2 separate regions of the Homo sapiens genome follow, and region 2 is reported to be linked to region 1. The links are microRNA targets in miRTarBase. Many come from high-throughput screens and were not tested one by one. Region 1 holds a microRNA gene; the other region holds the end of a gene's coding sequence.
The links. The annotated mature microRNA hsa-miR-4756-3p reads CCAGAGAUGGUUGCCUUCCUAU and lies in region 1 at 1,726-1,747, opposite strand. An mRNA with a match to its seed (bases 2 to 7 or 8) in the 3' UTR can be bound and repressed. Matches are read on the target gene's strand: a 7mer-m8 pairs with bases 2 to 8, a 7mer-A1 pairs with bases 2 to 7 and ends in A, and an 8mer does both.

Region 2: miRTarBase lists ZBTB22 as a target of hsa-miR-4756-3p. Seed matches in the 3' UTR shown: 7mer-m8 at 2,458-2,464.

What each region holds. Positions count from the first base shown.
Region 1 is chr20:54,066,693-54,069,838 of GRCh38, forward strand. It overlaps MIR4756 (microRNA 4756), which reads right to left and starts at 1,793; the gene lies at 1,716-1,793. The region is part of intron 1 of BCAS1 (brain enriched myelin associated protein 1); the gene reads right to left. RefSeq lists an enhancer at 2,621-3,146.
Region 2 is chr6:33,312,439-33,315,438 of GRCh38, forward strand. It overlaps ZBTB22 (zinc finger and BTB domain containing 22), which reads right to left. Exons shown (of 2, transcript NM_005453.5): 2 at 1,980-3,000. The coding sequence ends at 2,574. It overlaps TAPBP (TAP binding protein), which reads right to left and starts at 1,640. Exons shown (of 8, transcript NM_003190.5): 1 at 1,567-1,640; 2 at 1,256-1,426; 3 at 779-1,039. The coding sequence starts at 1,603. RefSeq lists enhancers at 2,194-2,853, 2,854-3,000 and a silencer at 2,934-3,000.

The sequences.
Region 1 (3,146 bases):
AGAGTGGTCTCACCAGAAATGCATCGGCCAGAACCTTGATCTTGGACTTCCAGCCTCCAGAACTATGAGAAAACAAAAATGACTGTTGTTTAAGCCACCTAGTCTGTGGTGTTTTGGTTACCACAGCCCAAGCTGACTAATACAGATCATCTTCTAGTAAGTGGGAGAATGAGGACTTAACCCTCGCAAACTCAAGTCCAGAGTTTAGACTTTTAACTTTTCTATTTTCATACTTTCTACTGTCTCTTCTGCTGTATAAGTGATGTTATAGTTTTATGAAATATTTATATGTAATATAATAGAACATGGAATAGAAAATATTTCCTGCATATTCATTCTTGCAATGAGAAAATTATAACTAGGCAAGGAATATATATGGTACAATCTAAAGTGAGGATTAGGCCGGGCGCTGTGGCTCATGCCTGTAATCCCAGCAGTTTGGGAGGCTGAGGTGGGTGGATCACTTGAGGTCAGGTGTTTGAGACCATCCTGGCCAACATGGCGCAACCCTGTCTCTACTAAAAATACAAAAATTAGCCAGATGTGGAGGCACAATGCCTGTAATCCCAGCTACTTGGGAGGCTGAGGCAGGAGAATCGCTTGAACCCAGGAAGCGGAGGTTGCAGTGAGCCGAGATCACACCGCTGCACTCCAGCCTGAGCGACAGAATGAAACTCTCTCAATAAGTAAATAAATAAATCAAATAAAGTGAGGATTGAACAATTGAAGGGTCACTGATAATCACTGTAAGGATTTAGCGCCAGGGCTTGGCAGTACTCAGGTGAGTAAACGTTAGTTATTGCTAATATTATTCATTTATCTTATTATTGTTATAATTGAGTTAGTTCTGTGTTCTGATCCATGAGTGAATTGGCCTCCTGGAAGCTGCCCTCAAATCCCTCCTCTTTTACACAGTGATTGATGGTCCATGTCGCCTCCTTGTAGTTACAGATTAATAATAGGCCCTCCTCCTGGAAACAGGCCAAACGCCAAACCCCATGCAAGCTGGCCTGGAGAAAGCACTTCTGAAACTTCATCACCAGCAGGCAGCTAGACGACTGTTGAATGGGAGGGGGGGTGGTTTTGAAGGGTGGAATGGTGACAGAATTAGTCACCAAGTAAACAAGCAACACCTTCGATCAATGCAATGGAATGTAGGTAACCCAGGGGCCCTCCTCACTGCTCAGCTGAGGGTGACGCCAACATGGCCAGGCTGGCACACCCAGCAGAACCAGCCCTCTGCCCCCAACATCAGTAAAGACCTTGCAGGAGGAAAGAACAACCCCGCTTTGCCTGCCCCACAGTCCTGCAGCTCCATGTGTGTGCCCGCACAGTGCTAGGAACACGGCAGCTATTATCAGGAGTGCCAGGTACAGTGCTACAGGTTGCCTCCTGTACAAGGGGACACAGGGAACTGAAATCCAGTCCTCACTGAACTGCCCAAGCCCTGATTCCTGGTATGGGACTTTGTGGGTCCAGGGGCAGGGGTGCCTTGATCAAAATCACCTTGGATGTTTTAGGGCTGCTTGGTGATTGATGTTTTGCTTTCGGAGTACTTAATTATGTTTGCACAAACGGATGGTAATCCTAAAAATCTTAGAGCTCGCTCTCATAGTCTTATTATTGCACCAAACATTGTTAAGTGCATGATAATCGCAGGTAATTTTAATTGGAGGCTTACTATGTGCCAGGCAGCACCAGGGTGAGCATAGCAGGACACAAAATATAGGAAGGCAACCATCTCTGGTGCAGAATCGGCAGCAGAGAGTGAGCGCCTCCCTGCATTTTATCCCCCAGGTGCTCACTGGCTTCACCCTTGCCCTGACCCTGGTGCCAGGCACTTCACACACATTGTCTCCTTTTCCCTTGCAGAGTCCCATTATTCCCTGATTGCACAGATAAAGAAACCAAGGCTGAGCAATGCCATCCCCTCATCTCACGAACGTCACCTCCATGAGGGTAGGCACCTTACTAGTCCTACTTGCCCAAGAGTAGCAGTCAGAAAGCTACGGGGAGGCACACCTGGGGTTTGAACCTGGGTCCACGTGACTCAGGCACTCAAATCCTGAACTGCTTCAGGGCAGGGCACTTGGCTTGAAGAGAAGCTGCAGACACAGAGACAATCAAGTCACATCTAATACTCCAGCAGGACAGATGAGCCTGCAAGGTGCAAAGGTACCCCCGCCCCCAACCCAAAGCCTTTTTCAATTCCTCTCCCTCCACATCTCTTGTCATGGTAAAGCAGGCAGAATCCATGGGCTTTAACGGGCCCATTGCTTTTCCCAAAGCTCATGCCTTTTTCCTAAAAACAAAACCCTTCTGGGTTCCAGAACTCTTTGGAAAAAAAGAATCTTCTGTGATTTGGGACATTGGTTTGTTCCCCCACCCTCACTTAAATGAGAAACTACTTTAGCATGCCCCGCCCCGTCTGTTGTCTTTATTTAGGAGGAAGCACCCTCTACATACCCTGAGTATATACACCCAGGGCCTGAAGCTGCTGTGATCAGCTCAGGATCCCCAGGAGGCTGAGGCGGATCAGGCCCTGGACTCCGGGGGAACAATGTAAGGGACACCAAAAAGCTCAGCCATGGAGATGAATAGTATTTTAACATGAAATTTGTGAAAATCAAAATTACCGCTGTTCCTGATCTTATCTTTCTGTAACATGTTCATAGTTTGTTCATCACGGGTGTCTTGCCATTAATTCTGACTTTTAAAAATGTTGTGTTAACATACCGTTTATCTCCATGACTGAGTTTTTTGGCATCCCTTACATTTCGTGCCCAAGGTGAGAGTCTCACTGGCTGCACCCTCATCCCAGGCCCGACTGGACTCCAGTTCCACAGCATCCTTTCCATGAGACCTGGAACCAGATGCAGCTCCCTCTTCACCCAGCTTCATGTTCCTAGTTGTAAAATGGAGACGATGGTAACAGCGAAAACAAGAACCACAGCTAAGAGTTACTAAGTGCACAGGTATTTACGGGCAGTAGAGTCCTCTCAGCCCTTTGATCTCAGTACTGTTATTAGGTTCACTTTACAGATGAGGAAACTGAGGCCCAGAGGGCTGAGGGAACCTGCTCCAGGGCACCCAGCCAGCCCAGGGTGGAGCTGGGGCTGGCATCTGGCGGTGTGGCTGCAGCGCAC
Region 2 (3,000 bases), not on the chromosome of region 1:
ATACCCCGCCTCCGCTGCCAGGAGGGAGAGCTCCCAGATATCCAGGTCAGACTCTCCTCATTCTTGAATTATCTGCACAGTCCCTCCCACGTCCCAGCCTAGAAAAGCTTCTGACTCCTGGGCCTCAAACTGCAATGCACCTTTCAGTGCAATAGGAGCTATCCAATCTCCAGCCGCGTCCATCCGCCCACTCGAGCCCACCTGTTTGCGGACCACAGAGCGGCAGCACATCCCTACACGGGGCTGTCAGGCAAGGTCAACGCGCTAGAGTGCAAGAGCCTTTGCTTTGCGGATTGCCGCAGCGCCGGGTGTGGGCGCAGGTGGGGATAGAGTGCTGGGTTTTGAAAGAGTGACCCGCAAAGCTGAGGGTGCAGAGCAAGACACAGATCTGGGAAGAGCAGAGAAAAAACGCTCCTGCTTCTGAACCCCTCCCACCTCGCATCACCTGACAAGTCTCTCAAGGTCTGGTGTCGGGAAACCCCACCTCTTCAAAGCCCCGCCCTTCGAAACACCAGAAAGTAACCCCCCTGCCCGGCCCTGCTTTCCCCCTACCCCCTGCCAAGCTGCAGTTTTTTTTTTGTTTTTTTTTTTTAACTGGGTGAGGGCTAGAAGGAGCGGTAGAGATTGATTCATTCTAGCCAAACCACCTCTCTTAACAAAAAAAGGAAACTGAACCCCGATTGGCGAAATGTCTTGCTCAAGTCCATAAAGCGAGACCACCGGCTGATCTGGACCCTTAGAATCTACCCACCCTTCTCCACCTCCCCTCCCCAGCTACCTGTTGCCATGGTGATGAGAACAGGCTCCTGCTGAGGCTCTGGCTGTGGTCGCAAGAGGCTGGAGAGGCTGAGGACTGGGCTGGATATGCTGACCATCAGCCAAGCCCCATCCAGGGCCCGCGGGCAGTTCTGCGCGGGGGTCAGGCCGCTGGCCCATTTCGCAGAGGCGGGGAGAGGCACGAAGCGGCTCATCTCGCAGTGTGGTGCGGGGGCGCCCCGGGGATACCGCCTGAAGGCAGCCTGGAGGGCGCCCGCGGGGTCTGAGTGTAGAGAAGGAAGTTGCAGCTGTAGAGTCACCGCCGGGAAAGGGGCTGGAAGGGCAGCGTTCGGGGAACTTCAAATGCACAGACTACCCCGTAGTGAGACTCACTTTACAAAGGGGAAGCTGAGGCCTGAGGTCACTGCCGGATCTAAAGAGGAGGGGGTTTCGGTGGAGGCGACAGAGGTAGGGGGGCGGCGAGTCCCTAGAGACTCACCGTGTACACTGAGATAGAGCTCAGGGTCGAGGTCCGGCCGGGGCGGCGGTTCCCCCGGTCCCTGGCGCAACAGCAGTGCACCGGGTCTCTTGGCCAGGCCCTTTCCGCTCGCATCCTCCACGAACCAACACTCGATCACCGCGGGTCCTGCTGAGACGGCGGTCGCCAGGCCTGGCGTATAGGGACGCGAGTGAGGAGCGGTTTGTATGTCTGGTGACCTGCCCCACTCCCACCCTGGCATCGGCTCCAGTGGGGCCACCTCCCTCCGCTTCCCTCTAGTTCTTGGGCGATGAGTCGCGGGGTTCGCTCACCCAAAGCCACAGCGAGGAGCAGAGACAGGGACTTCATGGCGCTGCGACCTCCTCAGCCATGAAGCCTCCTCTTCCTCCTTTCACTTTCACTTTCCTCCAAAGGGCGGCATGAGGGGCGGTGGAAATCCCCGCTCTGGTTAGGTGAAGGTGCCTGGGGGACCGGTGTTTCCCCACTGGCCAGGCAGGGACCCGGGTAGATCCTCTCCAGTTCTCACCAGGACACCCCAGCCTTACCGCGCCCTCCTGGACTACCCAGCAGCCCCGAGTTCGAGCCCTCCCCAACCCCAGGCCCTCCCCCGCCCCCCAACTCCTGTGTGTGCTCTCCAACATCCACTTGCCCGAAAACCATTACTCCGGCTTCCCCCTATCTGTGCCGCGTCCCCAGCAAACACACGGGTTATCGGGAAGCCAAGTAAATGACCAATAAATATTTTAATCACTGTTAAAAAAAATAAAAACCTTGTACTCCTACGACTTACTCCCTCCTTGTCTCCACCCACTCCTCCATGAGAACCGAGTTGGGAATTTCCACGGGAAGTCGGGGGTGGCGGGGAGAGACAGGGTAGAAATAAAGAGCGCATCCTTGAGAGGGGGTAGGTTCTAGGACAAGGGTGGGGCTCAAAGGCCTTGTCTCCACGACAACACAAACACAGACTTCAGGCACAGACTACAACCACCTGACCCCTGACCCTGTGACTGCAGGATGTTCAACACGCCCCCTCTCCCTCCCTCCATGTGCAATCTACTCTGTGGAGCAGGGGCTTCAGTGTACCCATCAGAGGGAAAGGAAGGGTTTAGTTCTGGAAATACCTTGGGGGGGAGGGGTTGAGTAGTAGAATGGGCGGGCGATGGTGAAACTGTGGTTCCCCTTCCAGAATATATACAAGTCCACAGAGATAAAGGAAGACAGTAAGTGTGGTGGGAGATCACCCGGGGGCCACAGCGCCCTTGCATCGTGCTCCTTATTCCCTTTCCCGAAAGCTACCCCACCCCAGTAGCCTGCCCCTTCAGTTTGCTCCTCCACCTCCACCGAAGCCCATCTCCACCTTGTGGACTCTGGGTGGGGACCAGACACGTCTGCTGGACGGGGGCGTGGCCGCACTCGCTTCGTCGCCGCTGCCCCCGCCCACTCCGGGAGACTCTCTCTTGGACGGCAAGGATGGCCCCGTGGGAGTCCCAGGCCCAGGTACGGCCCCGACCCCGCCCAGGCGGTGCCGGCGCTCACAGTGTCCTCGGTGGCGCATGAAGCTGTCTCGCCACATGAACTTCTTGGCGCAGACTCCGCACTCGTAGGGCTTGAGACCTGTGTGCGTCTTCATGTGCTCAGTCAGATGGTGCTTCATCTTGAACTTTTTGTTGCACACGGGGCAGTCAAACGGCCGCAGATTGAGGTGCATGTTCACGTGCCGGTCCCGCATGCTCTTGTGGGAGAAG